3 separate regions of the Homo sapiens genome follow, and all the other regions are linked to region 3. Evidence: fine-mapped expression QTL. A gene starts in region 3. Each other region holds a variant in brackets. All regions are shown on one strand. Distances are from middle to middle. Region 1 has its middle 22 kb from the start of ZNF229. Region 2 overlaps ZNF229 (zinc finger protein 229). Region 3 holds the start of ZNF229 (zinc finger protein 229).

What was found. PIP is the estimated chance that this variant, and not a neighbour inherited with it, causes the effect.
Region 1: its variant is the best candidate, but not a certain one, in a credible set for the expression of ZNF229 in pancreas (GTEx, PIP 0.83).
Region 2: its variant is the best candidate, but not a certain one, in a credible set for the expression of ZNF229 in fibroblasts (GTEx, PIP 0.84).

Annotation. Positions count from the first base shown.
Region 1 is chr19:44,466,006-44,474,194 of GRCh38, reverse strand. It overlaps the pseudogene ZNF285BP. Among named protein-coding and RNA genes, the nearest start is that of ZNF229, 22 kb to the right of the region's middle. The variant G/A (reference allele first, on the strand shown) is at 3,327.
Region 2 is chr19:44,422,460-44,430,648 of GRCh38, reverse strand. It overlaps ZNF229 (zinc finger protein 229), which reads left to right. Exons shown (of 6, transcript NM_014518.4): 6 at 107-4,395. The coding sequence ends at 2,346. Among named protein-coding and RNA genes, the nearest start is that of ZNF229, 22 kb to the left of the region's middle. The variant G/C (reference allele first, on the strand shown) is at 4,993.
Region 3 is chr19:44,443,429-44,451,617 of GRCh38, reverse strand. It overlaps ZNF229 (zinc finger protein 229), which reads left to right and starts at 3,146. Exons shown (of 6, transcript NM_014518.4): 1 at 3,146-3,309; 2 at 4,018-4,105.

The DNA.
Region 1 (8,189 bases), 23 kb before region 3:
CCAACTCTTTACTCCAGGCCCTCAGGTACTCTCCTGTGTCTCCCAGATTCTCTCAATCCCCAGCTTACTGCAACATTCAGCTTCCCAAACCCAAGTATCACCTATAGACAAAAATCTCAGGGCCCTCTTCTATCACGTCTCCCATCTCTTCACCTGCAACCCTCAGGGACTCTCCTGTGTCTCCCAGCTCCTCTCCAACCATCCCCAGATTTCTCCTTGGGTCAGCCCTGAACACACAGGAGTCACCCAGAAACTCATAGACCTCACTGTGCTCCTCCCTTATCTCTGTCACCTCTATACCACCATTCCTTAGGGCCTCATCTGTGTCTCCCAGCTATTCTCCAAGCATCCTCAGTTTTCTGCAAGAGTCACCCCTCAGCATTCAGGAGAACCCTAGAAATTCACAGAGCTCACCAGATTATTCCCCAACTACCTCCACCTACACAGCAATGGCTCCCACATACTCCCTGGGGGCCCCACACCTATCTTCCTTTACACTCAGAGACTCCCAGGGCCTCACAGTCACTCCCCATTATCATCATTCAGCTGTAAGTCCTTGCAAATCTCCTGGCCAACGTGATGCATTTACCTGCCCATTTCTCCACATTCCTGCTCAGGGTCCCACACCTAGCCGCAGAAGAGCCCCTTCCGCATTCCAGCCTCAAATACAGGCTTGTCCTTCTACTTCATACTGCCACACACTTGCCGGCAGAAGAGGCGCGTCTAATGGCCGACATCACCACCCAGGCAATCATCACCCCTCAGCTGTGCAGCGGGACCCTCCTGCCTGCCGATGTGGCTGCCGGCGCCTGTGCCAGCGCGAACCCCCAGCCTGTCATGCTGACCTCATCGATGGCAGCGTCCCTGTCTTTTGCTCCCCCAGCCCTCCCAAAGGCTGAGTTAGCCTCTATCATCTGGAATACAGTGTGGCTTCTGTTTTCCTAATTGAACCCTGACTTACTACCTTTATAATGTTTCTCTCTGCTTATGTAGTCTTTGATGAGTCAGAAGGTCCTTGCCACGCTCACAATGTGTGTACTGTGTCTCATCTATATGCACTCTCTGATGGGCAAGGAGGTATGAATTACGACTGAAGCCCTTACCACATGCCTTACACTTATAGGGCCTCTCTCCTGTGTGGACTCTGAGGTGAACACGAAGATCTGAATTCCGACTGAAGTCTTTACCACACTCATCACATTTATATGGTTTCTCTCTGGTGTGATCTCTTTGATGTAAGTGAAAATATGAACTGTAACTAAAGCACTTTCCACACACTTTGCATTTATATGGTTTTTCTCGAGTGTGAACTCAGATGAGTGTGAAGAACAGAGCTATACACAAAATCCTTTCCACACACATTGCATTTGTATGGTTTCTCCCCTGTGTGGACTCTCTGGTGAATGTGAAGGTGTGTACTTTGGCTGAAGCCCTTTCCACACTCATCACACCTATAAGGTTTCTCCCCTGTGTGAAACCTCCAGTGGACTTGAAGAACGGAGCTTGAACTAAAGCACTTGCCACACTCACTGCATTTGTAGGGCTTCTCTCCAGCGTGGACTCTCTGATGGACAAGAAGGTTGGAGCTCTGATCAAAGCCCTTCCCACACTCTTCACTTTTATAGGGCTTTTCCCTGTGTGTACTCCCTGATGAATACAAAGAAGTGACCTAAATCCAAACCCTTTCCCACATGCATCACATTTGTAGGGCATCTCCCTTGTGTGGACTCCATGATGGTTATAAAGGAAGGAGTTGCACCTGAAGCCCTTGCCACATTCTTTACATTTGTAGGGTTTGTTTCCTGAAGGGACTTTCTGATATCTGGGAAGGTCTGAGCTCTGTTTGCAGCCCATAGGCCATTCGTGGAATTCATAGGGAGTCTCGCCAGAGTGAGTTTTACAATGAACGATAAGATCTTGGCTCTGACTAAAGTTCTTTCCATACTGGTCACATTTATAAGATTTTTCTCCTAGGTGAGTGCTGTGATGGACATGAGGATCTGTATCATCTGCAAAGGGCACCCCACAGTTATTACATGTGAAAGGCTGTGGTAATACATGGACTGCATTATGTTGTTCAACTGTTGATTTCATACCAAAGTTTTTCCTGCAGTTGGGATGTCTACCAGGGTCCTCTCCTTTACATTCTTGGGACTCATGATGATCATGTGAGGTCCAGTTGAGGCTGTCATCATGCTGAGCACGTCTGTACAATTTCTCTTCCATGTAAATTCCCTTATATCTTCCCTGAGAGTTCTGGGGCTCGGTCATTATGTTGGCTTTCCTCCACGATTCTGGGGTAAGAACCTGTGTCAGGCTTTGCCATGCTGTGATATCCTGATTTTTGATAATGACATTTGCTACATAGTTTTCATTTTCAGAAATCTGAAGAGACTTGCCTGCTCACTCTTCACAGAGGGAAACATTTTTAAATGTGGGGAACACTCTTCTTGAAGGTTCATGATATAATCCTGACTCCCAGTTAAATCCTGGATCCTTTGTTTCGAAATCTGCCAGCAATGAAGCACTTCTTGTAAAAGGTAATTCAACCCCTTTTCCTGAAGATTCAAAATGTTGTTTTTAATCCCATCTCTTATGAGAAGAAAGAGAATGTGGCTAAGAGACCAAGTCAATCATCTGTCCAGAGGTTTTGAGAAAACGAAATATGATGGGGTGGGAAGTTGTCCCTGGCTTCTATTGACATATGAAACAATTAGAGCCACGGTAATTCTAACCTGTGAGCTGCCAATTGGAAATCAAGTGTTGTAGGGAAATTAAAAGAAATCTTGGCCAGGTGCAGTGGCTCATGCCTGTAATAGCAACACTTTGAGAGGCTGAGGTGGGAGGATCACTCAAGCCCAGGAGATCAAGACCAGGCTGGGCAATATGATGAGATCCCATCTCTACAAAAAAATTAAAAATTGGCTCAGTTTTGCCTATGATCCCAGCCACTTGGAAATCTGAGGTTGGAGGATTGCTTAATCCTGGGAGGCAGAGGTTGCAGTGAGCCAAGATTGTGCCACTGCATTCCAGCCTGGGTGACAGAGCAAGACCTTTCCACCCCTACTCTGCAAAAAAGAAAAAAAAGGAAATCTTAGGAAAAATTTATGAAGGAAGAAATTCACCTCCCTGCTATAAGAGTAGTCGATAAAAAGCCTTTAATAATCTTGCTACAAAAGGTATGGGAAAGGCTCCCATTTTATGTAGTGTGTGTGTGTATATAAATAATACATATTGATGGAGTGTTTTTTATATGTTGGGCAGAGTAAGGGACACAAAGGGTCACAAGAGGTTTCAGAAACAAGCAACAAGTCCTATCTCCTGAT[G/A]GCTTCCCTTCCTTCACATCACTGTCATATGGAGGACTATCATGTATGTTTGTGTACAACCTGCACAACTGTACATGGTGAGCCTAAAGGGGATGGGGATAAAAAGGCAATGGGGATTGAAATGGGGTAAACATTGTGAAATATGGTCCTGGCGTTGTGCGGGGATGCGTATGTAAACCTCTGAGACAAGCTTTAAGAGACATCCTTTTTATTTTCCCCAAGGTTCTTTGTCTTCATGAAAAGATAGAGACCACTCAGATCCTACAATCCATTTCCTTAAGTTCTGCCCTTTTAAGTTGTTGCAGAATCTCAAACAGCCATGACTATGAAAATGGGGAACAGATACTGTGGCACTGTCAATGGCCTGGCACCCAGGGAAGCAAGACTGTGGTATATAACAAACAGGGGGCTGAGGCAGAAGAGGACGATCATATTCTTGGGATCCTAAGATGGGTTTCAAAATGGCATGAATATCATGGTCAAGTCCCACTGGATACTGCTTCTGGTTCAAGGTCCTTTCTGGGTTGTTTTATTGAAAGTGACTTTAGTTTATAAGATAGTATCAGGGAAAGGGAGACCACGAGCTGCCCTGAATAGGGTTTAAGCAGTGGTTTCCCAATTGTTTTGATTGTAACCCACAGTAAAATCAGCATTGTGACTCAGTAGGAATAGGCACAAACATCAACACAGACTGCTCACTAAAACTTGCTCAGCTGATAGTTACATACTGTGTGCAATGTACTTTGATAAATTCTTTTGTTTTCTGTTCTATTAATCTATTTTGCTTTTTAAAAATTGCTAGTTATGACACAGTAATTTGATTTCAGGACTCACCAAGAGGGTTTTATCCTGCAGTTTGAGAAACAACTGCAGAGATATGCAGATTTATGCAAAAGGTCCTGTGTCTACAGTTTACGCTTTGGTTTCATGAGGTTATTTATTAAAATCACAGGACCTAGGACCAGATTAGGAGGGTTCAAATCCTAGTTCTTCTTATAAGCTGTGTGATTGTGGGCAAGTTATTAATTCTGTGACTCAGTTGTTTCATCCATTGATATGGCTTGGCTGTGTCCCTACCCAAATCTCTTCTCGAATTGTAACTCCCATAATTCCTATATGTTGTGTCTCATAATTCCCACATGTCAGAGCCCCCACACACAGTGCCTACCAGGGCACTGCCTAGTGGAGCTGTGAGAAGAGGGCCACTGTCCTTCAGACCCCAGAATGCTAGATCCACCGACAGCTTGCACCATGTGCCTGGAAAAGCCACAGACACTCAACAGCAGCCCATGAAAGCAGCCAGAAGGGAGGTTATACTCTGCAGAGCCACAGGGGCGGAGCCGCCCAAGACCATGGAAACCCAACATCAGCGTGATCAGGATGCAAGACATGGAGTCAAAGGAGATCATTTTTGAGCTTTAAGATTTGACTGCCCTGCTGGATTTCAGACTTGCATGGGGCCTGTAGCCCATTTGTTTTGGCCAATTTCTCCCATTTGGAACAGCTGTATTTACACAATGCCTGTACCTGCACTGTAGCTAGGAAGTAACTACCTTGCTTTTGATTTTACAGGTTCATAGGTGGAAGAGACTTGGCTTGTCTCAGTTGAGACACTGGACTGTGGACTTTTGAGTTAATGCTGAACTGAGTTAAAACTTTGGGGGACTGTTGGGAGGCATGATTGGTTTTGAAATGTGAGGGCATGAGATTTGGGAGGGTCTGGGGCGGATGATATGGTTTGGCTGTGTCTCCACCCAAATCTCATCTTGAATTGTAACTCCCACAATTCCCATGTGTCATGGGTGGAACCCAGTGGGAAGTGACTGAATTATGGGGGTGGGTCTTTCCTGTGTTGTTCTCATGACAGTGAATGAGTCTCATGAGATCTGATGGTTTTAGAAAGGGGAGTTTCCCTGCACAAGCTCTCTTCTCTTGTCTGCCACCATGTGAGACGTGCCTTTCACCTCCGCTATCATTGTGAGTCATCTCCAGCCACGTGGAACTGTAAGTCCGTTAAACCTTCATATTTTGTAAATTGCCCAGTCTTGGATATGTCTTTATCAGCAGTGTGAAAACAGAGTAATACATCCATAAAAGGGGGATAATAACATCAACTATCTGTATTAGTCTGTTCTCACGTTGCTAATAAAGACATACCTGAGATTGGGTAATTTATAAATGAAAGAGGCTTAATTGACTTACAGTTCCATATGGCTGGGGAGGCCTCACAATCATGGTGGAAGGCAAAGGAAGAGCAAAGGGACGTTTTACATGGTGGCAGGCAAAGAGAAATCTTGTGCAGAACACCCATTTATAAAACCATCAGATCTCATGAGACTTATTCACTATCATGAGAACAGCACGAGAAAGACCCCCCTCCATGATTCAGTTACCTCCTACCAGGCCCCTCCCACAACCTATGGGAATTATGGGAACTACAGTTCAAGATGAGACTTTGGTAGGGACACAGCCAAACCATATCACTATCTTATAAACTAAACTTAGGTAATACCTAACTGTACATGAAACTTTGAGAAATGAAAATGAGGTTGGATATTTATCAAAAAGTAATCAAATAAGCCAACACTTAGATTACACTTACTATATACCCATAAGTGTTGGCTGTTGTAACTTCCAACAAAATCAAAGTTCTCCCATGATTCCATTAACACTGGTTTATCCAGAACATTGGATAAACATTGACTTTTCTCCAGAAGCAACAAATAGATCAAGGTCCTTGGTGGTGTGTGAATTTTATCAGTCTCATTCTGAGAAATATGAGGAAAGAATGAGAGCCTAAATATGTGAGTAGGGGAGGAAGGGCTTACTTCCTGCAATGAATGCCCACAGGCCAGGGGTGGAAGATTTGGGGAGAGCTCCCTCACAAACCCATCACAAGGAGCCACATCCTCACAATGATCTGTAAAAGCTCATTAACTGCAGGGTCCTAACTTGTGCATGCAGCTCTTAGGATTTTTCTCTCCAGTGGTCAAAGTTTCTCTTTGTGGTCTAACTGGAATATTCTATCTGGCTTGAAATGATGATTTGAGGAAACAGGTCCAGTGGTCTGATGCTCAGTTACTCACTCACTGACATGAGGTTCCTGAAGTTTTCCAACATCACATCTTGGTACAGGTTTATCTGGGCTTTATCCAATAGTGCCAGCTCTTCCTTGGTGAGGACAACAGCCACGTCCTTGAATATCACCCTTTCCTAAAACATCAACCACATGCCACATCAATCATCCACACAAATGACTGGTCTTAGTCTGTTTGGGCTGCCTTAATAAAATACCATAGTCTGGGTTAGATTAAACAAACAAAAGAAACTTATTTCTCACAGTTCTGGAGATTGGAAAGTCTAAGATCAAGTACCACCAAGATAGGTTTCATTCAGGTTTCTTCTCTTGGCTTGTAGACAGCTGTCCTCTCACTGTGTCCTTACATGGCAGAGGGAGAATGAGAGCAAGCTCTGTTGAGTCTCTTTTCATAAGGATACTAATCCTATTGAATCAGGGATTCCCAAAGGACAATATTAATCAAATTATAAAATATGGCCCAGGACACAGGCGCAGATAAATCTATACTAAGGTGTTGTGCTGATACATAAGTCCAGTAGTGTTTCATGAGTTCATTTCCCATCACACACCAAGGTTTGGTATTTTCACTTTTTCATGGCAGATTAATCTATTTTTATCATGTTAAAGGAAAGTAAGAAGACAGGGTAACTTAAAGCATTGGCTCCTAGATTCAAAAAACAGAAAAGGGAAGAGGGAGATTATTAGGATAATTTAGAACATTTGGATATCAACTATTAAAAAATAATGGTATCAATGTGAAATTTCCTGAGTATGTTAGCAGTAATGTGGAAATGTAGGAAAATGCTCTTATTCTTAGGAGATATAAACTGACATATTTAGGGATGAATTATAATGATGTCTGCAATTTATCCCAACTGGGTCATCAAAATAAAATATAGATATGTGTGTGTATATACACATATTATGCATATGTTTGTGGTGATTGTTAACAATTGGTGAATCTAGGTGAAGATTACACATTATGCTATTCTTTCATTTTCTCGATAAATTGAAATTTCTTAAAATAAAAGGATGCGGGGAATAATCTGATATTAATAACCATCTCCTAATCAAGACACCAATTTTTACATAAAATATTTCTATCACTGCATATGTCACACTGCTCAGAGTCGAGTATTTACAGATATGTTCTCTCAATAGATTCTGCATCTCTAAATAAAGCAGAGCTTTCAAACGAAAGTTGTAAGCAGTTATAAAGGACTTCAAAAAGAATATGTTACTAACAATTGTCCAATTACCAAAATCTGACAATGATTAAAAACAAAATCTAGGGGAGTCAGCACAGTTGTCCTAATAGCACTGCTCTGTCAGTAACACTACTGTATCCTTCTTCTGTGGGAGGCAACAAAATTGAATTGGAATTAATCATTCAGGAAATACAGATACCCTGAAGCCTACTTGGGGTGGTAGGAATCCTAGGCAGGGAATGCCATAGGATGCAGGTACAAGGACAGCCCCCAAATATTAAGAAACCAAATTTATAAACCAATAAATACATGCAAAACATCTTTAAATCTTTTCCTTTGTGAAGTATTCTTGTAAAACCATCTATGAAATATTCTTGTAAAACCTTGAACCTGAATCTATTCAAGCATCTGGTGCTTCCACTTACAAAAAATACTGTGGATAGAGTAACACACTGAAAGACACCAAAAGGAAGCAAACAAATGCATTCCAAATGTAGGAAAGAACACAGGACACCAAACTTGGTTTCTACGACAAGTCAACAGCAGGAGAGAATAAAGTAGATGGGCAGATTTCTC
Region 2 (8,189 bases), 21 kb after region 3:
AAGCCTAATTTTTCTCTAGGCTATTATTAGTTCAAGTCTGAAAGTCTGATGTCCCTGAGCCAGTCTTTTACTAGTTCTCATCTCTGAATTGTCTTTAACCTCATAGGAGACAAGAATGGAAAGGATACGGAGTATATTCAAGATGAAGAATTAAGGTTCTTTTCACACAAAGAGCTCTCCTCATGCAAAATCTGGGAAGAGGTGGCAGGTGAATTACCTGGGAGCCAAGACTGTAGAGTAAATCTGCAAGGAAAAGACTTCCAGTTCTCAGAAGATGCTGCTCCCCATCAAGGGTGGGAAGGAGCATCTACGCCGTGTTTTCCAATTGAGAATTTCCTGGACAGTCTACAAGGGGATGGGCTTATCGGTCTAGAAAATCAACAGTTTCCAGCCTGGAGAGCTATAAGACCAATCCCCATTCAAGGATCTTGGGCAAAAGCGTTTGTGAACCAGTTAGGGGATGTTCAAGAAAGATGTAAAAATCTCGACACAGAAGACACAGTATATAAATGTAACTGGGATGATGACAGCTTTTGCTGGATATCTTGTCATGTTGATCACAGATTCCCTGAAATAGACAAGCCGTGTGGTTGCAATAAATGCAGAAAAGACTGCATTAAAAACTCTGTACTTCATCGCATTAACCCTGGAGAGAATGGCTTGAAAAGTAACGAATACAGAAATGGCTTCAGGGACGATGCAGACCTTCCCCCGCATCCAAGAGTACCTTTGAAAGAGAAACTCTGTCAATATGATGAGTTTAGTGAGGGCTTGAGGCACAGTGCCCATCTTAACAGACATCAAAGAGTTCCCACAGGAGAGAAATCTGTTAAGAGTCTTGAGCGTGGTCGGGGCGTCAGACAGAACACGCACATACGTAACCACCCCAGAGCCCCTGTGGGAGACATGCCCTATAGATGTGATGTCTGTGGAAAGGGGTTCAGGTATAAATCGGTTCTTCTTATTCATCAAGGGGTGCACACAGGAAGGAGACCCTATAAATGTGAGGAGTGTGGGAAGGCATTTGGTCGAAGTTCAAACCTGCTTGTCCATCAGAGGGTCCACACTGGAGAGAAACCATATAAATGCAGCGAGTGTGGGAAGGGCTTCAGTTACAGCTCAGTGCTTCAAGTCCATCAGAGGCTGCACACAGGGGAGAAGCCCTACACCTGCAGCGAGTGTGGCAAAGGCTTCTGTGCCAAGTCTGCACTGCACAAACACCAGCACATTCACCCTGGAGAAAAGCCCTACAGCTGTGGCGAGTGTGGAAAGGGATTCAGCTGCAGCTCCCACCTCAGCAGTCATCAGAAGACACACACCGGCGAGAGGCCCTACCAGTGTGACAAGTGTGGCAAAGGTTTCAGTCACAACTCGTACCTTCAAGCTCACCAGAGAGTTCACATGGGGCAGCATCTGTACAAATGTAACGTGTGTGGTAAGAGTTTCAGTTACAGCTCAGGGCTTCTCATGCATCAGAGACTGCACACAGGAGAGAAACCCTACAAATGCGAGTGCGGGAAGAGCTTTGGCCGGAGCTCCGACCTCCACATCCATCAGAGGGTCCACACAGGAGAGAAACCCTATAAATGCAGTGAGTGTGGGAAGGGCTTCCGGCGGAATTCAGACCTTCACAGCCACCAGAGGGTCCACACGGGAGAGAGGCCCTACGTGTGTGACGTGTGTGGGAAGGGTTTCATCTACAGCTCCGACCTCCTTATCCATCAGAGGGTCCACACTGGAGAGAAACCCTATAAATGTGCTGAGTGTGGCAAAGGCTTCAGTTACAGCTCAGGGCTTCTCATTCACCAGAGAGTCCACACAGGCGAGAAACCTTACAGATGCCAAGAGTGCGGAAAGGGCTTTAGGTGCACATCAAGCCTTCACAAACATCAGCGAGTCCACACGGGAAAAAAGCCCTATACGTGTGATCAGTGTGGCAAGGGATTCAGTTATGGCTCTAATCTTCGCACCCACCAGAGGTTGCACACAGGAGAGAAACCCTACACTTGTTGTGAATGTGGGAAGGGTTTCAGATATGGCTCAGGTCTCCTTAGTCATAAGAGAGTGCACACTGGCGAGAAGCCATACAGATGCCACGTGTGTGGGAAGGGCTATAGTCAGAGCTCACATCTTCAAGGTCATCAGAGGGTCCACACTGGTGAGAAACCCTATAAATGTGAGGAGTGTGGGAAGGGCTTTGGCCGCAACTCCTGTCTTCATGTTCATCAGAGAGTCCACACTGGAGAGAAGCCCTATACGTGTGGTGTGTGTGGGAAAGGCTTCAGTTATACCTCAGGTCTGCGGAACCACCAAAGAGTGCATTTAGGCGAGAACCCTTATAAGTAGATGTACATAGAGGATTCCATCTGGGACTCAGAGCTTTCTATCCATCTGAGAGCCAACACAGGAGAAAAACCATAGGAAAGTGACATGTAGGAGGGCTATAGGAGAAACTGATGATTTTACATTTTCTAGTCTGCATAGGAAGGGAACACCTGGATGTGTGATAAATAGGTTAGCACTTCAGTTACAAACTTCAGTCTTTAAGAGTCTGTTGTGCAGCGGAGTAGGCTTTAAAGAAACAGTGCAGCAGTGGTTTCAGTAATAATCCTCACTTCCATCAGAATCTGCCTGGGAGGGAGCTTTTACAATGTACAAGTGGTGAGAATGTTTCCAAGGTGCTAATTATGGACATAGATTCTTTGTGTGGGTTGATAGCTACCAATGGGACAGTGTAGAAACAAGTTTCCACCTTTCTAAAACCAGTTTGGTACATATCTTTTTAAAGATCGCTTTATAAAAACAAAAAGATAACATTAACATTTATTGAAACAAGTCACTCTGAGAAGACCAGGAACAAAGTTCTCTTGGCAGATCTGGGTGATGTGTGTGTCTCACATTTTTATCATGTTTTTATGACTGTTTTATCTTGCAGGTAAGCTTTACAGCTTTCAGAGGAGTTGTAGTACACTACAGAAATATGTCTTCTTTCCAGGTTCAAAAAGCAAAATCTGATTGGCATTGCATTGAATTATTAATTAAATAAATTTATTAATTGGCATTGCATTGAATTTATAGGTTAATTTTGAAAGAATGTGGCGTCTTTGAAATGCTGATTTTTTTTCACTTTAAAAAAATGACTTTTTTTTTACCACTGATAGTATTTCATATGGTCCCTCAGTAATATTTCTTAGAGATGGTTAAAAATAGGTTCTGAGTCATCTTAAGCATATTTCTAGGAATTTGTTTTATTGCTGTCATGAATATAATGGTTTTGCTCCAGTTCATTTCATAGTTTAACATATCAAATATTAGGTATCTTAAAAATCACAAATGCTATTTCACCCTGCAGGTTAGCAGTATTAAAATAGAATCATCAAATCCCCCATCAGTGGGGGCGGGGGGGGGGGTTGTAGAAACAGTCTGATATGGTTTGGCTCTTGTCCCCACCCAAATCTCATCTCAATTTTAATCCCCACGTGTCAGAGGAGGGCCTTGGTGGGAGATGATTGGATCACGAGGGCAGATTTCTCCCTTGCTGTTCTCATGATAGTGAGTTCTCATGAGAGCTGATGGTTTTAAGGTGTAGCCCTTCCTCGCTGTCTCTCTCCTGTCCCCTTGTGAAGAAGGTCCTTATTTCTCTTTTGCGTTCTGCCATGACTAAGTTTTCGGAGGCCTCCCCAGCCATGTGGAACTGTGTGTGAGTTAAACCTCTTTCCTTTGCAAATTACCTAGTCTCAGGTAGTTCTTTATAGCAGTGCAAAAATGGACGTAATAAGTCTTATGTACTTATTGGTGAGAGAGAAAATCCGTGCATTGTTTTCAAAAGAATTCATTAACGTATCAATTCAATTTCTATAACCTTTGAAGTGGCAGTAAATATGTAGTAATTGATACTTGGGAGATAGTTGCCCACTTGGGCAAAAACGCATGCAGAAGGTGGAGTTTTTAAATTTAAAACATTTTTAAAATAGCAAATGTTAATATTCCAGTTTCCATTGGTAGGAAATTTTTTAGATAAGTTCAGGCATATGTATGCAATGGAAAGCCACTAGAAATCTTCAGGCACACAGATAATGACAATGCAGGTTGCTCATGAAGTATTTAGTGAACCAGGAGAGTTTTAGAACAACAATTATAGCATGACCCCATTTTGTTAGTATGTTTTTCTGTGTGTATGTTTAGAGCAACAGAGAAAAAAAGATGTGGGAGAGGACATATAACTACTTATCTCTAGTGGTGGGATTCTGAATGTATAATACATATGTTGTACTTTTATGTATTTTACTTTGTAACAAAGTATCTTTCAGTTTTATAATAACAGTAGAGCTATTTTTTATAAATTAGCCTGATGGAACAATCCCTTATGATTAAAGATTCATGTTGTAACCTCTATAACTTTTTTGGCTTTTTCTCCTGTTCACCCAACTCCCTGTACCAAAGATAAGGCATACAAATGAGTGATGTAAATATTCTCAGAGGCTACATCATTTTTGCTGGCTGGTAGGAGATGAGGCAGTCTAGATAATTAGGAGCCACGGTGTTTCCATTTTTCAGTCCTGCCTTCTTGAACTAGTGAGCCCACAAGCCTGGTTTTGTAGAGGGCAGCACACCATCATGTGTTCCTCCAGGATAAGCTCTCTGTCTTGGTGACTCAGGAGACCTGGGTCTGCTCTGGTCTGAGCCTTCTGCTGCCTGGAGCTGCCAAAGAGAGAAGACATGTCAAGAGGTGGGGAACAGGCACTTTATATATAGATAACCAAAGTATTTACCGTGGGAAATAAGGTTTCAGAAGGGGGCAAGGGGTAGGGATGAAAAGTAATTTATGGAACTGCAGCAGAGTCACTTGGGATGTAGGGTTTTATGGCCAACAGAACAAATGCAGACACCCCTCAGACCTCAAAGTTTGTGGCTGAAAAGTTTAACTCATTCTGTATTCCCAGAGGTTGTCAGCAGACTCCTCAAATTCTGGGCAGTATCTCCCCCAGTGTT[G/C]TGGAGGCAGCTGTCAAATGTTGGCAGGGGCTGCAGTCATCTGAATGCTGGACTGGGGCCTACAAGGTCTGCTCCCAAGATCACTTCAGGCAGGAGCCTTCAGTTCCTTGCTGGCTGTTAATAGAGGTCTCAGTTTCTCACCTTGTGGGCCTCCCAGGGCTAAAGGCCTTCATCTTGTAGCAACTGACATCCCCCCGAGTAAGTAATCAGAAAGGAGAGAGCAAGCCAGAAGCCAGGGTGCCTTTTATGACCCAGTCTCTTAAGTCACCATCACTTCTGCTATATTCATGAGTACTAAGTCTAGGCTACACTTAAGGGGAGGGGTCACATCTTAAAACCACACCACCTATGTAATCATGGGAGACTAATGTGGATAGGATGGACATGCCAACAGTGAGTCTGCCTTGTGCACTTGTGTTGTCTCTTTTCTACTTTGGGGTCTGCAGTCCTTGAGGTCTCACGGGGTTGCCTAAAGTTTACTCAGGTGCCACCCAGCTGCTAGGATTTCAGTGGCAGTAAGGTATACAGACAGTTAAGGAGAGAAAGCTGCAACTGTTGTGCAATGGGTTACTGTAGGGGTAGGAATTCAGTGCCTTCTATGAGATAAAATGAGGTGTTACTCTCTGGTGTCATTTTTTTTAATGCTATATGGTAGAAAGGTTAATACAAGTTTAAGGGGATTTGCAGAGTTGTAAAAGCAGCCCGTCTGTGGGGACAACATTGGAAATAAAATCTGGTAGTACATAGAGACAGATATTAAGCAAGTTGTCTCTAACTGGAGTGGGTTGGTAGGGGAGATGGGTCTGGTCAGAATATAAGGTTCATGCTGATAGTAACATTGTGTCCTACCAAGAAGTTGATGTGGCCGTTTGGTAAGGTGGGTTCAGATACAAAGGATACCAATATCCCAGAAGCATTTGTGGATCTAAACAAGTTGCAACTATACTTCAGGACAGTCGTCAGCCTGAATGCACATATCTCAAGTATAATAAGGGCTTTGTGAAGTAACACTATGCCTTTAAGATGACTTGAGCAATCTCTTGCATCCAGATGTGTTGCTAAGAATACCGAAAACACCTAAGCCTGTTGCACTGAACCCCAGAGTCACAGTGTAACATGGGATTGTGCAATTTGGCCCTCAGGAGTGACTGTATATCACATTCAGCCTCTCGAATGGCTACTACTGACATTTGGCCAGTCAATAGATACTATGTCAGACCCTATTTTAACCACTAAGAGTGCAACCATTAAGAGTCATCTCTCTGCATAATCTGGGCATGGGCCCTTGCATGAAGCTATCATAGGCAGGCAGCAAGCAGAGCAGAAAGGCAGATCATGAAGTCGTACTGACCTGGGTTTAAGTCTGAGATCCACCATTCCTTTCTTCATCTCTAAAACAGAATCACACACTCTGCCTCACATAGAAATGTAATGTATTCACACAATACATTTTCACTCTTTTTCCTTTTACCAGCGGGGGAGGTATGTTTGCTTTCTGATGCCTGAGGTGGTATTTCACAAGAGAAAACAACCAACCTGAAACATGGTCTTGTCCTTCCTATCTCGGGAAAGGGCTGAGGCTTGAGAATGAAGAGTTGTAGGAGGAGAAAGAGGCCATGAGGAGGAGTTGGTGCTGTCTGGAGCTCTAGACCATCTACCTGATAGGAAGGTGCCCAGCCTTCCTATCAACACCTTAACATCACAATTAAAAGAACTAGAGAAGCAACAGCAAACAAATTCAAAAGCTAGCAGAAGGCAAGAAATAACTAAGATCAGAGCAGAACTGAAGGAGATAGAGACATGAAATATTCTTCAAAAAAATCAATGAATCCAGGACCTGGTTTTTTGAAAAGATTAACAAAATTACATGGACAACTAGCTACACTAATGAAGAAGAAAAGAGAGAAGAATCAAATAGACACAACGAAAAATTATAAACAGGATATCACCACTGATCCCACAGAAATACAAATTACCATCAGAGAATACTATAAATACCTCTACACAAATAAATAGAAAATCTAGAAGAAATGGAAAAATTCCTGGACACATAAATCCTCCCAAGACTAAATCAGGAAGAAGTCGAATCCCTGAGTAGACCAATAACAATTTCTGAAATTAAGGCAGTAATTAATAGTCTCCCACCAAAATAGCCCAGGACCAGATGGATTTACAGCCAAATTCTACCGAATTCTACAAAGAGGAGCTGGTACCATTCCTTCTGAAACTATTATAAACAATAGAAAAAGAGGGATTCCTCCATAACCCATGTTATGAGGCCAGCATCACCCTCAAACCAAAACCTGGCAGAGATACAACAAAAAAAGAAAATTTCAGGCCAATATCCCTGATGAACATCAATGCGGAAATCCTCCATAAAATACTGGCAAACCAAATTCAGCAGCACATCAAAAAGCTTATCAACCACAATCAAGTCAGCTTCATCCCTGGGATGCAAGGCTGGTTCAACATACGCAAATCAATAATCATAATCCATAACATAAACAGAACCAATGACAAAAACCACATGATTATCTCAATAAAGAAAGGCCTTAGATAAAATTGAATATCCCTTCATGCTAAAAAAAATCTCAATAAACTAGGTATTGATGGAACATATCTGAAAATAGTGAGATATTTATGACAAACCCATAGGCAATATCATATGAAATGGGCAAAATCTGGAAGCATTCCCTTTGAAAACCAGCACAAGACAAGGATGTTCTCTCTCACCACTCCTATTCAACATAGTATTGGAAGTTCTGGCTGGGGCAATCAGGCAAGAGAAAGAAATAAAGCATATTCAAATAGGAAGAGAGGAAGTCTAATTGTTTCTGTTTGCATATGACATAATTGTATATGTAGGAAACCCCATCATCTCAGCCCAAAAACTCCTTAAGCTGATAAGCAACTTCAGCAAAGTCTCAGGATACAAAATCAACATGCAAAATTCACAAGCATTCCTATCCACCAACAATAGACAAACAGCCAAATCATGAGTGAACTCCCATTCACAATTGCTAGAAAGAGAATAAAATACCTAGGAATACAACTTACAAGGGATGTGAAGGACTTCTTCAAGGAGAACTACAAACAACTGCCCAAGGAAATAAGAGAGGACACAAACAAATGGAAAAACACTCCATGCTCATGGATAGGAAGAATCAATATCAAGAGAATGGCCACCATACTGCCCA
Region 3 (8,189 bases):
GGATAAGATTCACCCGTTTAAGGTGATGGATTTCTACTTCTTTGAATAATGCTGCTATGAACACTCCTGTACAATATTTAGTTTGGACAAATGTTTTCTCTTGGTTCATACCTAGGTGTGGAATTGCTGCATCATTTGGAGACTTCTATGATGTTTAACATGTTGAGGATCTTCCAGATTATTTTCCAATATGGCTGTAGATTTTGAAATTCCTACCAGCAGTGCCGGAATGTTACAGCTTCTTTACATGATCGTCAGCATTTTTTATTTTCTGTTTTTTTTTTGTGTGTGTGTGTGATTTAGTTTCACTCTTGTTGCCCAAGCTGGAGTGCGGTGGTGCGATCTCGGCTCACTGCAACCTCTGCCTCCCGAATAGCTGGGATTACGGATGCATGCTACCACACCCAGCTAATTTTTTGTATTTTTAGTAGAAAAGGGGCTTTACCATGTTAGCTAGACTGGTCTCGAACTCCAGACCTCAGGTGATCCGCCCACCTCAGCCTCCCAAAGTTCTGGGATGCAGGCGTGAGCCACTGTGCCCAGCCTATTTTCTGCTTTTCAATCCTGACCATTCTAGTGAGTGTGAAGTAGCACCATTGTTTTGACTTCCATTTCCCTAATGACTGAGGATGTGGAGAGTCATTTCATGTGTCTCTTGCCTATTTGTTTATTTTCGTTTAAGATATGTCTACGGAAATACCTTGCCTACTTAAAATTGGGTTATTTTTTCTTAACAATAACAAAACTGTTAGGGAGTCGGAAATTACAGCAGTTTCAAATTCAGTTGACACACGGTTTCTACAGTGTTTTGCAGTTTGTATGAGGTAGGATGAAGGCTGAATATTTACCTTGGGCCTTGGAATGGATTCATCTACCCACACTTTGTGCAGGTTGGCTCTTAGCTTCCAGGTCAAGACACCTTTTTAAAATAATTATTTTTATGTTTATTTTATTATTATTATTTTTTGAGATGGAGTCTTGCGCTGTCGCCCAGGCTAGAGTGCAGTGGTTTGATCTCGGCTCACTGCAAGCTCCTTCTCCCGGGTTCATACTATTCTCCTGCCTCAGCCTCCTGACTAGCTGTGACTACAGGCACCCCCCACCATGCCCGGCTAATTTTTTTTGTTTTCTTTTTTGTATTTTTAGTAGAGATGGGGTTTCACCGTGTTAGCCAGGATGGTCTCGATCTCCTGACCTCGTGATCTGCCTGCCTCGGCCTCCCAAAGTGCTCTGATTACAGGCATGAGCCACCGTGCCCGGCCAAGACACTTGATTGAATTGCTTAAGTGCTTCCCATGTGCCAGAGCCATGAAAGGTAAATAAAGAAAATAAAGAAAAAGAAGAGTCAATTATTTTGATGACTTAGAGATCTGACCATGGAGGCCATGTGAAAGGTGGTAACCAGCAATTTAAACCATGTGTTGCTGGATCCCAGAGTAATATAATTTATTGATTTCTCGGGGAAATGAGAATGTTCTGAGAGTGGTATTTAACATCCACTACACTCGCATGAAATTCTCCCAATCACAGACTGATCTGTTCATTGAATTATGATATAGAGTTCAAAAACACTCGATAGAGGAAATTATATTCAAGTTGTGTCTTAAATATGGAGTAAGATTTTAATAGTACAGGAAAGGATGGACTTACAGAGGGAAGAACAATAGCAGCAAATTCAGACATTTGTAAAACTGGAGGACACAGGATGGGAAGTAGGACTGTGTCTACCCAAGCAAAGAGGGGTGGGTTTGGAACCAAATATCTGAAGGGCTTGGATGCTTTGGAGTCAATTGGCAATTTTTTAGAATTTATCAAAACAATTCGATAATCTGTTTATAAGAGAGAGTTCTAGAACTTCTAGGATGAAATTTTTGAAACACAACAAGGAGGGAGAGATAAGGAAATGAGTTATCACTGTAACTGAAACCTTTCATCATGGCACAGAAAAAGCAATCTCTATCTTCAGAACACACTTGTATCCCAGAAAATATTTCATTATATATATAGTAATGTAGTAAGTGATTAGGATGCCGTTTAAATCAGAAAGGAAAGAATTAATATTTATGTAAATTTTGTTAAGAAAAGTAGACAATCCTTTGGTGAAACAGGAAACTCCATCTTCCTTTCATATCATACACTTAAATGAATCACGCGGTGATTCAAAAGAAAAATGAAAGAGCCTGAAATGAATATAGATATGCACTTATTGGGAATCAGGCTAAGGAATGTCTTTTTGGTCATACTGGAGAAAAAAAAGAAGCCACAAATGAAAAGACTGATATACCTTGTCAGATGAAGTTTTTTGTTTTTTTTTTTTTCTAAACTACTTTATAAATGTTGAAACTGGGGGAGCAATTCATCACTTAGAAGCGATATCATTCATACACAGAGAGTGTATGACAATAAAAGATGACAATGAAATGCAATCGGTAATAAGCATATTTACTCTGTCAAATTGGGAAAATAAGACAGGATATTTAGTCCATCAAATTGGGAAAATATTAAAGAAAGTGATTGTGTGTAGTTTTGATATCATAAAATTAGAAGTGTAAGTTCAATGCAGGACAAAGGGGTAACTTCCCTAAAAACTAAAGAATGCTAGGCAAGTATTGCAAATAATTTGTGTTTTTTTATTATCTCTATGTATCTCTACGTCTTTTGTGACATACAGAACTATCCACGATATATGACCTGTGGCAAGAAATGATTACAAAATATTATGATGCCATTTGGGAAATGGGATTCTTAAGAATTCATATTTACTCACATAAACCAGGGATTAAGTAAGAATTTTTTTTAAACCATTCTTTACATGTAATATGAACTACTTTTGAAATAAATATTTAGTTGGCTTTTACACCAGAAAATCAATAATGCTTTATATCCCTGGTGATGGGATGATGGGCTTGTTTGAGAATATAGTCAGGTTTGCTACAACGCGAATATGTTAGTACTGAGTAAAGACATTCTTTTCAACTCAGAAACACCTTGCATGCCGCCTCCCGCCGCCTCGCAGTGGGCGTGACTCGAGGTGGACGCGCATTTACGACACCATCGCCCCTAGGATCGGACTGCGCTGCGGAGGGTTCTGGGAAAGGTAGTCCCACACCTCGAGTCGACTACTTCCGTTTCCGGTGGGCGCGTCACCTTGATTGCTTCTTAGGCAGTGGTGAGGCGTCTTAGAGACGTGCATCTCCATGCGGTTGTACTGTCAGGCCATGGGAATTAGGATCGGCTCTATAGGACCAGTGTGAAGGGACAACGTGCGGCGGAGGGTCGAAGCCCACGGATTTCCATGAGCTCGGCCTGGTGAGGCAGGGGTGTAAGGAGGCGCACGTATCGAACATTCTGAGCGCCTGTGCGGGGTGGGCCCGGGTCGGCAGCCCTCGCAGTCCAGGCTTGGAAAAGCAGTTTGAGGCCAGCTCTGGCTTTGAGATGAGATCTGCAGTGCGGGAGACTCCACTGTGTCAGTTGCGGATCGATGACATGAATTTTCTCAGGGTAGCCGCCCACCCACTTGTGGAGTAATTTCAGAGTTTTCTGCGAAGTCATTTCTGTAAACAGGAAGTTGATTCCCTGTGTTCTAATTTTATCCTTTGAAATGTATTAAGCGCTGTGCAAGTCCTAGGAGTTGGTTTGCTGTATCGTTGCTGGCTCTGCTTTTTGTAGCCGCCTAAGCACACACAGGCAGAATTTCACTTGTAAGTGTCCCACAGCATGTGACAGTCAGCTCTGGATTAAAATCTTGAGATTTTGTCTTGATTCTCCTTGTCTCCTGAAAGGGGCAGTGAAAGTAGGCTTGTAGACGGTTTCTTTGGGCATCAGGAATGGCGTGTCCCTTGTACTCTGAGTCCTGTAGGAAGAGAGGTTCTTTTCCTCGGCTCCTGAAGCAAGTAGCGAGGGTAGATTACAGGAAGGGGTAGATTACATCCAGCTGGCACTGAGAGATTTCCCCCTGTGGCGTGGTGGGAATTGGGATTAAATCATGTTATCCTGCTGTTCATTTTTCTTTCACAGGCTTCCTTCTTGGAATTGTTCGTTTCTCGGAGATAATTGTATAAAAGAAGGAGAAATAACCCCACATCTCTTGACACTAGAGCTCCAGGTGAGTGAACTTTGGTTCTCTTTTGTGGCAATGCCAGGTCTCTTGGTGACCTCATTCTTCATCCCATTGATATCACAAATGTTCATTCAGACCCCTTAGCCACACCTGCCTTCCCCTAGAAATGGGGGAGGTTTGAGGAATTTCCCAGTGTCTTTATTTAGTGTATTCTCTTCTTGGCTCCTAGTAGTGTGTCACTGGGTCAGTAAAGGCTTACACTGTTTCAGCGCCATGCTGAAGAAACGCAGGGTAGAAATAATTAGAGTAACTGTGATGGTGTATATTAACTGAGTGCTTACTATATGCCAGGTATTATTTATCCATGGTGTCTAGGACAGTGCCAGGCTTGCCAATAAATATTTGAATAAATGAATGTATTTCTATTGAATTTTCTGAGCAAGTTTGTATGTTAGCTATTATCCCCATGTCACAGATGAGTTGCTAAGGTTTAAAAAGTTAAAAAAACTTAACAGGTAAGACCTGGCCAGGAGACCTTCTAAACAGAAACCAGGTCTTTGCGCTTATGCTTCCTTCTGGACTTGTCTCATCCCAGCTTTTTTCACAGCTGATTTATTTGTCAGGCAGCTCTTAGAGACTGTCCCTGACCACCTGATTTAATGTTGCTCTTTCCACAGCTGCCACATATGTTCACCTGATAGCACCTACATTCTTGTTGGAAAACAGGAATCTATCATGTTTGCTTTATTTTCTTCATAGCCCTTTTTGCAACCAAAGGTCACCTAATTTGTAGAGAGATTAACCCACCCGAAAGTAAGCACCATGAGAACAATTACCTTTTCCATCTTAATTTACTGCTGTATGTCTAGTGTTTATTCTCCTAAGATGTTGTTAGACACTGAATGTACATTTACTAAATGCATGAGTTCCTGTATTCCTAGGTTAATGCTGGGTTGGGTCAATGGTAATAGTATATTGATGATTTTCTGTGTACCACGTACTGGGCTTTGAAGTTTATTCACATAGGCATGTGTGTGTGAAAGAGAGAAAAACTTAAATTATTTTAGTTTTGCAAGTAAGGATTATCTTTATTTGACAGAAGTACAGACTCATTCAAAAGGTTAAGTCTCTCCTGTGGTGTTAATATAACTACAAAGTGGCTGAACCAGAATTCGAACCTAAACCTTTTGATAACTCCAGTTTTGAGAAACTAGAGCTGCAATTTTCAAAACCCTGCTTTCCCTTTTGCTATCTTATTATTTTATCATAACTTCATAATTTACCTGTTTTCCTCAGACTTCAACCTCAGAATCATATTTATTTCTCCTCCTCTTCATCCCTACATGGAATTATTCTTTTAGTTTTGTTATTTCTACCTCTGCAATTATCTCTTATTCCCATTACTTCTTTGTCCCACTGCCTTTGTACCAACTCTTTCTGTCACCCTCTTTCTCCCCCAATGTGAGCTCCATGCAGTCCAGAAATGTATCCTAAGCACATGGAACACAGTAGATATTCATTATGGCTGCTGATTTCCACCTAGAATGTTAGCAGCTGCATGAGCACAGAGTCGTTGTCTGCCCTGTTCACTCTTGGGTCCCAACACAGCCAGCATAGTCCTTAGCACCCAAATTACTAAGTCCATGAACTGGAGAAGAAAATCACTTCTGCTGTGAAGATGACATCAAGAGGACCCAAGGATCCATATCAGCAAGCTGAGTTCAGGTTACTCCCGTTCTCCCATTTAAATATTTATTGAGCACCTGCTGTGTGCCAGGTGCCAACTGAAATACTGGCCCTCATAGAGTTCACATTCTTGTGGGTGGAGAAAGATGGTCAACAAGAAAAATAGACTGTAGGTAGGGTGTCAGTTTCATGGAGAAAAATGAAGCAGAGGAGGGTGTAGGAAGTGCTGGTTTGCCAATTTGAGAAGGATAATGAGGGATGAATTTCACTGAGAAAATGGTGCTTGAATAGGGACCCAAAGCAGGTGAGGGGCCTGCAGGCATCTGATGAAAAAGGCAAAGAGAACAACACGAAGGCCCGGTGATGAGGGCATGTGAAGAACAGCAAGGAAGCCAGAGCTGAGCAGAATGAGAAAGAGGGAGGATAAGTGGGAAACTGAATATTGGGAAGGAAGATAGTGTAAGGTCTTTGGGCCATTGAAAGGACCTTGGTGCAAGGTTTTGAGTAAAATGATGGTTTTGGCCAGAGAAGAATATGAGTTTATATTTTTAAAAGATCACTCCAGCTGCTGTGTAGGAAGTAGACTGAAACGAACAGGAGTAGGAATGCAGAGGCCATTTAGGGGGCTGTCACGTTAATGCAGGTGAGACATGATGGTGTGGACGGTGGCAGCAAGAATAATCTGATTCTGGTTCTGATTTGTAGGTATTTGCTGATGGATTGGATGTAGAGTACGAGGAAGAAATCAAGGATGACTAGAATATTTCCTCTTCATTTCAAAGGAGAGAAGTACCTCTAGGGGCAAATCTGGACTTTTCTTTTGAACATGTTTTTTGAGTTGCTTTTTAGACATAAGAGTGGAGATGGCAGGTTGCCATGGAGTCATCAGTGTGTAGATTGTGTTGAAGGCCTGAGGCTGGATATGTTCACCAAGGGAGTGAAAGAAGATAGAGAACTTTATGTGCTGACTCTTGAGGCTTCCTGACCTGAAGAGTTCAGGGATAGGAGGAGGAAGCACAAGGAAAATTTTTACCCACCGGAAGTCTCTGGAAACCCTGAAAATCAGCCAGTCAGAGGAAGTGAGGGTAACTTAGCAAGTTTGCTTCAGGTGTGGCCCCTGGACTCACTTTGTCAGCATCCCCTGGAAACGTTTAAAACACAGACTCCTGGGCTCTACTGCAGAGATACAGAATTAGAATCTTTGGAGCTGGACTCTAGCAGTCTGTTTTCATCATTGCTCATGGTGATTTTTAAACATACTGAAGTTTGCAAAGCGCAGTCCTAGAGGATCCTGAAGTTTGAGTTTAAGTGGCATTGCGGTGGAGGCCTTGTTTCAGATCTGGCCTCTACTCTTCCCTTTGTCCTTTGTGTAGGAGGGTAGCGTGTTGCCTGGTTGTCCACACCTGGGTCAAAGGGCAATCCCCAGTTCAGGGCAGTGCATGAAGGGAGGGAGAGAGAAAGATGCTTGTCACTGTGGGCCATGCAGAGGGCTGGTACAGATGGTTAGAGGAAAGAAGGAGATTTGAGTTCCTGAAGCAGTAAAATCCAGTGAGTGTCCTAGAGTAGACAGCCCAAGTATGTGTATCTGTTTGTCTGAACTTGACCTTGAGACTTGAATTTCAAGAGGAAAGAGGCCAGGCAAGGTGGGGAAGGGTGGAAACTCATGTCCACTGTCTTTGCACTACCTCCCGAGTAGCTCTGAGCAGATTGTAAGAGTTTTGTTCAATCTGTGTGCATCACCTCCTGCTGATAGAATTGCTTAGGACCCTTAAGTGCTTCCCGTGTGCCAGAGCCATGAAAGGTAAATAAAGAAAAAGAAGACTCAATTATTTTGATGACTTAGAGATCTGACCATGGAGGCCGTGTGAAAGGTGGTAACCAGCAATTTATACCATGTGTTGCTGGATCCCAGAGTAATTAATTCAGTCTGGGGGGTGGGGCGGGGCAGAAGAGGCTTAATTTTGAAAAGGAATTCTTGCCCTGGGCTCCATGAGCATAACTCAGGAGTTCCATGAATTTGAATGGGAAAAAAATTATACTAGTCTAAGTCACAAGTAGCATTTCATTGTGAACATAGGTGCTAAGCCACAATATTATTAGCAGTACTTGTGACTTTGTCATCCATATACATCATAGATATTTTTATGTCATATTCTGGTTTGTGCAAATATTTCAGAGTATTGTTTATGCTCATTACTCTTTTGAAATTGTAGTTAAATTTATTGTTTATATTGAATGTATTAATAAAGTGGCACTATACTTGCACAGTGAGCCATGCAGAGTTTTAATAGTTTTGAAGGTTGTATTTCCATATAATTCTTTGCATTTCATTTTATGCATTTAAAACTTTATTCTCAGTAGGGATCTTTAGGTATCATCAGATTAGTGAAGGGGGGCCATGGCACAAAAAAAGTTAAAAACGCTGACTAAAGATGGCTCTAAT